Regions from separate parts of the Homo sapiens genome. Here region 1 is linked to region 2. A link means that fine-mapping ties the variant in region 2 to the plasma level of a protein whose gene starts in the linked region. Region 2 holds a variant in brackets. A gene starts in the other region. All regions are shown on their forward strands.

Region 1 (5,065 bases), not on the chromosome of region 2:
GAGCATCTACTTGGAGCCAGGGACTATTGTTAATACTGGAAATACAGCAGTAAATATGGACACAGTTCCATTGTGGAGCTTACTTTTTAAAGGTGGAAACTGTGTAATAAATACACATTATAACATCAGGTAGTGCTAGGAGCTACAAAGTATAACAAAGTAGGATGGGGTAAAGATATAGTGATACAAGGAAGGCAAGAGTAGTCAGAATTCTATTTTGGATCAGGATGCCCTCTCTGAAGGGAAGGTGACATTTGAGAAATTAACTGAAGGGAATAAGTTAAGCAAACCTGTGAGAAGAGTTCAGGGCAAAAGAAACACCTGATGAAAAGGCAGTGAGGCACATGCTGGAGATTACCAGGAGAATCTGAGTGAGGCAGTAGAAAAATGAAATATGAGAAGAGTCAGATCAAGGGCCCATGGTAAGCAGTTTAGATTTTATTTTGAATGTGATGCGATGTCTCCAAAGAGCATGACCTCATGTTTGCCTTTTAAAAAGCCTTTTACTAAATGTCTTACTGCTTTTACTATTCCCTCCTAGAGTAAAGAATGGACTCTAGGAGGGAACAGTAAAAGCAGTAAGACATTTAAGAAGATGGGGTTGGCTGGGCACGGTGGCTCGTGCCTATATTCCCAGCATTTTGGGAGGCAGAAGTGGGAGGATCATTTGAGCCCAGGAGTTCGAGACCAGCCTGGCCAACACAGAGAGACTCCGTCTCTACAAAAATTTTTTAAAAAATTAGCCAGGGATGGTGGCACATGCCTGTGGTCCCAGCTACTCAGGAGGCTGAGGTAAGAGGATTGCTTGCGCTCAGGAGGTCAAGGCTGCAGTGAGCCATGACTGTGCCACTGCACTCCAGCCTGGGTGACAAAGTGAGACTCCGTATCCAAAAAAAAAAAAAGAAAGATGGGGTTTAATAAAGTGGAAAGGATCTTGACAAGTGAGATATTCTGGATACGTTGATACAATCAAATACGACGAGGCTAGAGAGTCACCTGCTTGGGGATTAAAGTTCTGAGAGTTGATGTAATCTCAAATTAGAGAGTCTATAAAGAGACAGGAAGAGATGAGAAGGTGTATATTTCGAGGTACAAAGCAGAAGCAGACTCAGTAAAGGAAAACAAGAGAGATGGGACCCAAAATATTACTTGAGAGAAGCCAAAAGTACAAAGAGCCTCATAAAGCAGCAATGTCAAATGCTACAGAATTAAGGAGATGGTGAGAATAAACCAAAGAATTTTACAAGACAGCAATTTCAAGAAGCTTAGACATCTTGATTCAGAGCTATAAAAGGGTTCATTTTTTATTACCAAGTTTTAATTAGTTTTCTTAATTCCCAAATGGGATCCCAAAAAGTTGACTCTGAATTAACTGAAAAGGAGGTCATCCAGGTGGGCCTGGTCTAATCACATAAGCCTTTTAAATCTGGGTCTAGAGAGGAAAGACCAAAGTAAAAGAAATTTGGAAGTCAGAGAGGCAAGCTCCTGGTAGCCTGCACGAAAGCAAACATCAATGTTATGAATGGCCTCTAGAGGCCTTGAGGCAAGGAACTGTAGGCAGGCTGTAGAAGCTGGGAGCAGTGGCTGGCAAGAGGCAGCAAGAAAAGAAGTACTTCAGTCCTGTAACTGCAAGGGACTGAATTCTGCCAACAAACTGCATGAGCCTGGAAGAGGACCCTGATCTCCAAATGAGAACCACAGCATGGCTAATACTTTGCAGCCTTATGTGACCTGGAGCGGAGAACACAGATCATCCGTGCCCAGACTTCTATCCTACAGAACCCGTAAGGTCATTCATGGGTGTTGTTTTAAGCTGCTAAATTTGTGGTATTTGTTACGCAGCAATAGAAAACTAACACAGGTTCGTTCCACTTTCCTATGGAAGGGGCTGCTTCTGTTACCTAGCAGCAAATAGGAAGAGAAGCGAACTTGAAAAAACAAAGCTTGACTTTTATGATCTCTAACTCACTATTCCTAGGGATTCTGTTCAATTACTGCTTGAGTCACAGTACTTGGTTTGCTATCTACATTTTGCCAAAATATCAACTTCCTGAAAATCATGAGCAGTGGAAACAGGCTTTTTAATTTTCAATTTTAGAAAGTAACTTTGGCAATTACGCAAAACTAGAAGTAACTGGGTATTTAGGCTCCTTGAATGTCAAAGTAGTCCCAGCGCCTGGAGACACAGATCCCTGCCCTAATCTCAGAAATGAGCCACAAGGTCATGACTCCTGTCTTTCCTTGAAGACCAGGAGTTTCAGCTCCACAAATGAAAATCTTTCGCTTTTGTTTGGATTAAGAATAACTCAGAAGTGTTCTCAGCTGCGAAAAGAAAGGCACTCCCTCCCAGATAATTACAACCTTGACCCCTAAAATGTGGACTCTCGCTAGAAGTCCAGGCACCTCCTTATTAAGGATGCAACAAGCCGCCGCTCCGCTCGTCCTGACGGGAACTGTAGTTCTCGCCCGTCGACCTTCAGCACTGAAAACCTATCGCGCGCCCAACCGGCGACCCAGACGCCAGCAGCCAGGATTGGTCCTGGACGGGGGCAGCGCGGCCCTGATTGGACTACATGCCCACGAAGCCGCGCCTCCCGCTACTCTCCACACCCCACCCCGCTGCTGCAATAACCTCAAGTCATCCCAGTCCGGCGAACTCCCTGGTGGCTGCCTAGCTGCCCGCCCGGGCCTCTCCCGACGAGGGTGGCCCTGAGGCTCGCCTTTGTCCTGGAGGCTAGGCAGCGACCAAGGCTCCCCCGTTTTTCGCTGACGGTTCTAGTTCAGCCTCCTCACGCGCCTCCGGGAGCCCCAGTGCTCACCTGGGCGGCGGCGGTCACACCCGATAACTGACAGGCCCGCAGCATCTCGGTCAAGCGGACGGCGCTGCTGGTGGACTCGAGCTGCCGCGGCGGCGCGAGTTAAGTGGAGGCGTGCTTGCGTGTGTGCGTGCCCGCGTCCGCGCCCGGCGCACCGGAAGCACAGCGGACGCCACTGCGCACGCGCGGCCCCTTCTACCGTCCCCGACTCCGCGGCTCTTAGAGGGTGGGCTGTGTCCCGGCTGCGGAAACGCCAACTCCAGGCGATTGGCGCGAAGGAGGCGAAAAGGGCGGATTCCCTTTCCGGGTCGCGCCCGGGCTGCAGGTCCTTATCCGGAAGGGGTTACTAGGTGAACACTGCCGGAGGGAGAGCGCTCTGAAATCCATTCTTCAGCCGCACGTGGAAAATGGACAGCTGTGACTCTTAAAGAGAATTAAAGCAACAAAGCATCTCAGCCTGCTCTATGAGCTGGATATTTCGTAGGAAGGAGCCGATTTGGCGAAAGTTACGTAAACAATGGAATTGTCTCAGTTTGCGCCTTTGTTTCGTTTGACAGCCCTCCAGGGAGTCATAGTGATTGCTGGAGACGGTGAACTAACACTGTGGGGACCCTTGTGCTAAACGTGTCAAGTGGCACAACAAGGATAGGAACACGGGTCCTTTGGACTCCACAGCTTCTGCTCCTTCCAGATTAAGCCACACTGCTTTCTCCAAGTTGTTACTGTAGTAACATCATTTTGGCTGCAGTTTGTGGATGGGTTGGAAGATGGGAAGTCAATGCAGAAGCACCGTTGAAAGTATTCCACTGGGCAGGGCGCGGTGGCTCACGCTTGTAATCCCAGTACTTCGGGAGGCCGAAGCGGGAGGATCGCTTGAGCCCAGAGGTTCGATACCAGGCTGGGCAACACAGTGAGACCTCGTCTCTATATAGAAAAATAAACAAACAAAAAATTTAAAAAGAAAAGTAGGGCCAGGAGCTATGACTCACGCCTGTAATCCCAGCACTTTGGGAGGCCAAGGCGGGTGGATCGCCTGAGGTCAGGAATTCGAGACCAGCCTGGCCAAAATAGTGAAACCCCGTCTTTACTAAAAATACAAAAAATTAGCTGGGCATGGTGGCGGGTGCCTGTAATCCCAGCTACTCGGGAGGCTGAGGCAGGAGAATTGCTTGAGCCCGGGAGGCGGAGGTTGCAGTGAGCCGAGATCACGCCATTGCACTCCAGCCTGGGCAACAAGAGCGAAACTCTGTCTCAAAAAACAAAAGTATTCCATTGATTCTGTAATCAAAATAAAACACGTTAAATATTAAGCATGGTATTAATACTCCATGTATACTCCAGAATTAATATGTTCGTATTAATACTATTAGCATCTTATTGCAATATCGTGGAAACTAACTTTTCTATCTTCTATTGGATTTGCAAAGTATTCCAAGTCTTAACTGGGTAATTTATTACAATATGTATTCTCTCTAGAGGTAGACTGCGCTATGACTTGTAGCATGGAGAGATGGACTTGAAAATTATCTGAAAGCAATAGTTATGTTTGTATATGTTCTATGTTCTATGGTTTTTAGGGGACTACAGTAATTACATATGTTTCATATCTCTTTCACTTAGCTTCCAGAGCAGTCTCCCGTTTTCTTTAGTAATTTTAGCAATTGAATTGCTGCCTCCCTGCCCACTGCTGTCATGCCCAGTGGTGCCGGTGTGATGACTTTTCTAACACCCTTGTCTTTGAACTTCTTAATGCCAGTGAACGCTTTCATCCTGCTTCAGTCATGTGGTGCCCGTGTGATGACTTTTCTAACACCCTTGGCTTTGAATTTGTCAATGCCAGTGAATGTTTTCATCCTGCTTCAGTCATGTACGTCACAGCCACAACTTGCGCCTGAACATCATTAGCAACCTCTCTAGCTTCAAGATCTCAAACCTCAAAATTAGCCTCCCAACCCCTCATAACCTACGTGGAGAGTCCTCACTCTCCACTTGGAAGTTGTCAATATTTTTGCTTTAAAATGTTATCAGGCAGGCCAGGCGCTGTGGCTCACACCTGTAATCCCAGCACTTTGGGAGGCTGACGCGGGCGGATCACCTGAGGTCAGGAATTCGAGACCAGCCTGGCCAACATGGTGAAACCCCGTCTCTACTAAAAATACAAAAATTAGCTAGGCTTGGTGGTGCGCGCCTGTAATCCCAGCTATGTGGGAAGCTGAAGAAGGAGAATCACTTGAACCTGGGAAGCAGAG
Region 2 (5,528 bases):
AAAGAGTCCACGTGGGGACATGTGTGTTTGTCTGAGAGAAGAATCCACGTGAGTAAAGGTGCGTTTGTCTGACAGAAGAGTCCACATGTTGACAGATGTGTGTACCCATCTGAGGGTAAATGCCCATTCAGGGACAGTGTATGCCTGAACTGAGCTGAAGTTTGGGGAAATATTTCTCAACCAAGGAAAGAAAATAATCCTGTCGGTTATTTGCTTGTCAAGAGGAAAAAACCTGGGTCACATAGAAAATTGATTTAAAAAAAAATTTAAAAAATTAAAGGTCTTTAGTGAATGGCAACATCTTATATGCAAATCAGGAAAATTACCTCATTCTTTGTTGCATACATCTCATGAAATCTCCACCCTCACAAAATAAGTAATGAGATAATTTTATACAATCTGCATTTGATCCTTGGGTTAATGAACTGCTAAATTTTTTTTAATTGTATATATTTAGGTTTATATTTTCCATCACAAAACTATGTGCTTAGACAAATTAATTGTGTCATATCTGAACCATTGCATATCACTAAAAATAATTTTAATCTTCTTAAACAGTGTCTTTTTAACTTATTTTATACCCAGTCTCTAAACTCCTCGAATATCCTCTATATGTTGTTGTTTACTTGACTACAGTTTTGGCTTTTATAGAATTTCAAATAAATCAAATTATACAGTGTCATTGAAATGACTTCACTGAAGAAAGTGGAAAATGAAGTTGCTGACCTAAGGAACTTTGAAAATGAGGAAACTCTGTAAGTTTAAAGTGTAAAGAAACTGAACATAAGCACTCTATTCTAGTAGATAAACATGTTTCCTACAAGGGTACAGCTTTACATTTCTGATACTGCTATGCATGTGTCCTGAAATTGTGCAGCTAAGTAATAAAATGGCATATGGTTGGATGGGGTTCCTCATTTTGCAGTGAGAGGTTATAGACAGTCAAGGAAGGAAGGCTAGAAAGATCCATGTGGTAGCATAATTGGGTAGAGAGACCAGTGTGTTCTCATTTTTAATGTAATCACATTACAGAAGGTTAGATACATAGTTTACTAGGCCAGTTGGTTGAGAGGTCCTGCAAGTACTTATACCACATTAACAATGCACATACCCAGTATTACAATTTTTTAAATACTATTCTTTAACATCAGAAGCAAGCAATCTTTAGAAAAATGGCTGATTCTATGTATGAAAAAGATAATATAGAAAATGAGTTTAGAATTTATTATAATAGCAGGAAACAGGGAAGTGTTCAAAAACAAAAGCATGAGGTGAGCTGTAAGGATGCAGGATCCAAACTCAATGAGCTCCCAGCACATAATAAAGCCATGGTGGTTTGAAAAATAAAATGAATAATGTAGCATGGATCTTCTTCAGAGTATGAAATAGACATCCATAAACCAATACACATATTAATAAGTGATCAAATAAAGAAATAATAGGAAGAGGAACACATCTTTTTACAGAAGTATTCCAAATATGTTAGGTTGATAGTCCTCCAATCAAGTAGGTGAAGCTTAAACACTCATGAGATGATTGTAGCCTGAGATTAGAGACATGGAAAAAGTAATTGATATTACTGTATTTTATAATGAGATTTCAGATATAATACCAAAGACATGATCTGTGGATGAATAACATTTTACATTTTTAAAATCTAAATTTGTATAAACACACACACACACACACACACACTTTTCTGCAATACATACTGATAAGGGAGTAAAAGACAGCCGCAGACTTGGAGAAAATACTTCCAAGTCACATATTTGTTAAATGAATTCTTTTAATTTGTTAAATGATTTTATAATCAATATGCAAGTAAACTTACAACTAATCAAAAGAAAACAATGCAGTTAAAAATGAACCAAATATGAGAAGAGGCATCTCGGCAAAAATTATATGAAAATTGTTAAATGTGAATTTTTATTACGGAAATGTGCATTTAACTAAAAATTAGATACCATTACTCACCTATTAGAATGGTTAAAACACACAATTCTCATAATGATAAATGGCAATATGAATGTGGAAAACCAAGAACTATCATGCATTGATGGTGGGAATTCAAAATGCTACATGCACAAAATGAGTTTTTTTGGCATTTTTAATAATAGAGATAAAAGTAGAGATAAAATGTGATTTGTGTGTGTGTTCCAAAATATTTACAACACTGATTCAGAAATTGATGTTTACACAGATACCTACAGAGGAAGTTCTGTATCAGTTTTATTAATTCAATCCCTGAAATTTGCTTGCAGAATAAATATTGTATGAAAAATCTCTCAAATAATTAAAATTTCTCAAATACATGTTTATATTGTTCCTTTTCCTTAATGACTTAATATCATTTTCTGAGAAAGTCTTCAATCTAATAATCTTTGTCATTTCCTCCATGCCAGCACAGCTGCTTCCCCCCTGGGGTTTCTGACACTCTCAGGATGTGGGTTTTCACACTGTGTCTCTCGCACAGTAATACACAGCCGTGTCTTCAGATCTCAGGCTGCTCAGCTCCATGTAGGCTGTGCTCGCGGATGTGTCCCTGGTAATGGTGACTCTGCCCTGGAACTTCTGTGAATATTTTGTGTTACCATTGCCAGCGTTGATCCATCCCATCCACTCAAGCCTTTGTCCGGGGGCCTGGCGCACCCAATGCATAGCATAGCTAGTGAAGGTGTATCCAGAAGCCTTGCAGGAAACCTTCACTGAGGCCCCAGGCTTCTTCACCTCAGCCCCAGACTGCACAAGCTGGACCTGGGAGTGGGCACCTGTAGAGAAGACACAGGAGTGGATGGAATTCCCCTTGACTGGCCTCGATCCCTTCCTCCTCACTGGGATTTGGCAGCCCCTTACCTGTGGCTGCTGCCACCAAAAAGAGGATCCTCCAGGTCCAGTCCATGGT[G/A]AGGCGTTGTGCTCTGGGGGCTTCTGAGGAGGGATGTGGTTGTTGGGTGATGCTCTCAGGGCACAAAGATATCTATAGTCATCTCAGTTATTTGCATATTCATGAGCGATGCTATTTCATACCTAACACAGCATGAGAAAGAGTGGAGAGATGACACATGGATTACCCAACAGGAGGATGCTAAGGGTTCAAGCTATAATCCCCTTAGAGGCCATGTGTGCCCTGCCATATCCCTAAGCTGTATGTTGACAGAGCTTCTCCCACTGGAGAACAATTTTCCCTAGAACAGGACTTCACTGGGAACCCACACTTGAATAGCTCAGAGGTAATTTAAAGTATTTCTAGGCTTTAATACATGAATGTGTTATTTGGGGGATGAGTGTGTTTCTCCAAAAGTTGCACTTATTTATATAAAATAAAAGCTTAATTGACCTCCAGATGCTTACTATTAAGATATGTAGCAGGGTTAGAAATCTCCAGTGTAAATTGATAAATTCTTGCAATTGAATAGGATATTTATGGACTCTTCAGCAGTTTTTGTCAAATACTTATTTTAGATTTTTTTAGAAGAATGACACAGATCTTAAGGGGACTCCATCCGCAGCCTCCTGTGCACCTGCTCTGGGGCTGGAGCCTGTGCTGGGTGGGCCTTGAGCGCCCCCTGCAGCCCAGCCCTTGCACTGCAGAGAGGCTCCTGTCTGGGCTCCCAGAGCATTTTCCCCCCAGTATGAAGTGGCTGTGTCCTGGCTCAGAATGCTCCTTTAGTGACACGTGACACCATGTGCTGCTGACGCCATCGCTTGCAATAGTAAATTGGTCGTAGGAAAAAGCCAGTGAACTCTGCAGAAACACCCCAAGCAAGGATTCTATGAAACCACCAGGGAGCCCCTTCTGTGGCGCTCCGGAAGCACTGGATCAGTCCACACTCACAGTGAGTCCAGGAGCTTCCAGGGGCTTTGGGAGAACACCTAATCTCTTGTCGGTTCCTGTGGATGAACATCTCATCAGATAATTTCTAAACCTACAAAATCATGGGTCTCAGAAGCCACTGCAAAACTCCTAATACACACACACACACACACACACACACACACACACACACGGTGGTTAGAGTCCCCACAGTAATGGACACACACACACACACACACACACACACACACTGTGTCTAGTGTCCTCACAGTAATGGGAGGGAACTGTGCCTTACTCCCTGTGTCTCGCGCATTGGTCGTGCGCCCACAGTGCCCCTAGGCCTGGGGATATGCCCTTGTCAACAGAGCGACAGCAAACACTTTACTGGAGATGGGGCCCTGCACACACTGTGGCTTCCCTGTTCTCCCAGAACCTGGGATCCTGCAGATACCCCTAAGAAGAGTCCAGGCTCCCCCTGGGAGGGTCAGCCACAGCCCAGCCCCACCGAGTCGGTGCAGCCTGCACTGAGCCGCTGACCTGTGGAGAGGGTCACGCCAGACCCACAGCCCAGCCAGCCCCACTCCCAGAGGCACATCAAGGAAGGGGGCAGAACCCTGGGGACTCTTGATGGGCATCTTTTCAGGAGCAGACACACGAACTGTTCCAGGAACAGGGGACCTGGGAAGGTCAGTAGCTGGTCAGGGTTTCTGAGGACCAGCGTCAGTGATGGGACCTGCCTGTCCCTTCTCATATGGGATGTCTCTCCTGGGGATCCTGTACTGTCTTATTTGTGCAGGTTCACTCTGTGGGACTTGTCTTTATAAATCTCAAATCTCAGGAACAGGAGAGCTGTGCTTCAAAAGCCCCCATAGAGAAGACACATTCCCATCCTGCTGTGACTGAAACAGCTCCATCCTGGGCATGGGGAGGGCTCATGTGTCCCACCTGGGATGAGAAGCAGCAGCCACACGTGAGCTGAGGAGGACTCAAGGCTGCTTCCCAGCACTTCCCCACAGAGTGAAATTTGTGTGTTTGCCCCAAATCCAGGCTGGCCCTGTGACTTGCTTCTTTCAAACTTCTTGGCCTGGAAAGTGCAGGCACCAGCTGTCACTGTCACCACTATTGTGACAGTGTACACAGCACCAGGACAGGATCCCAGGGATGGGGCTGAGGACAGACACTAGCTAAGTGGACCCATTGAAAACGTGCGGATCTGCTGAGGTTCACACTCCTGGAAGGACAGATCTTGGAGGGTTTGGAGGAGGAAGCAGCCACTGTCGGTGACTCAGGATCTGCTGCTCTGCGGGTCACCTCGTTGGCAAGTAACAGTGGGCAGGTGAGTGTGGTTCATCCCCTACAGGGACACCAGGCTTCCAAATGCCCCTCTTCACCAGGAAAGAAAGTGGCTTTGTTCATACTGGTTGCTCCAGCCGTCTGGTCATCCTGTCTTCCTGACCTTCTTCCCGTGTCCCTCAGGGCTGTGACACATGGACAAAGACACTTTCTACTCCAACCATTGATTCCCCAAGCCAGCTCCCTCTAGAAAAGCCATGATGTCTTCCTGGTTCTGTGTCCCTGGCTGAACCAGAATGGACACACATGGATATACCAAAGTGTCAAAGTGGAGGAGAGGAATCTTGGCAAAGATCACTCAGGAAAGAGAAAGGAATTCATTTGTGTGCAATGAGAGGGTGTGGGGCATGTCTGGAGGCTGCAG

Which allele goes with the higher level. Alleles are on the strand shown, and positions count from the first base shown. The strength of an association depends on the size of the effect and on how common the allele is.
For the plasma level of the protein whose gene starts at base 2,944 in region 1, G is the high allele of the variant in region 2 and A is the other (strong association).

Evidence for each region. PIP is the chance, under the fine-mapping model, that this variant and not a neighbour inherited with it causes the effect. The UK Biobank Pharma Proteomics Project read protein levels with antibody pairs (Olink). The fine-mapping took linkage between variants from a reference panel, not from the people measured, so its PIPs are less certain.
Region 1: it holds the start of IMMT, and the variant in region 2 is fine-mapped to the plasma level of the IMMT protein (UK Biobank, PIP above 0.99).

The regions. Positions count from the first base shown.
Region 1 is chr2:86,192,519-86,197,583 of GRCh38, forward strand. IMMT (inner membrane mitochondrial protein) reads right to left here and starts at 2,944. Exons shown (of 15, transcript NM_006839.3): 1 at 2,820-2,944. The coding sequence starts at 2,864. It overlaps MIR4779 (microRNA 4779), which reads right to left and starts at 590; the gene lies at 508-590. RefSeq lists enhancers at 2,445-2,494, 2,615-2,794, 2,815-2,934.
Region 2 is chr14:106,002,634-106,008,161 of GRCh38, forward strand. It overlaps IGH and IGHV1-3. Among named protein-coding and RNA genes, the nearest start is that of FAM30A, 87 kb to the left of the region's middle. The variant G/A (reference allele first, on the strand shown) is at 2,903.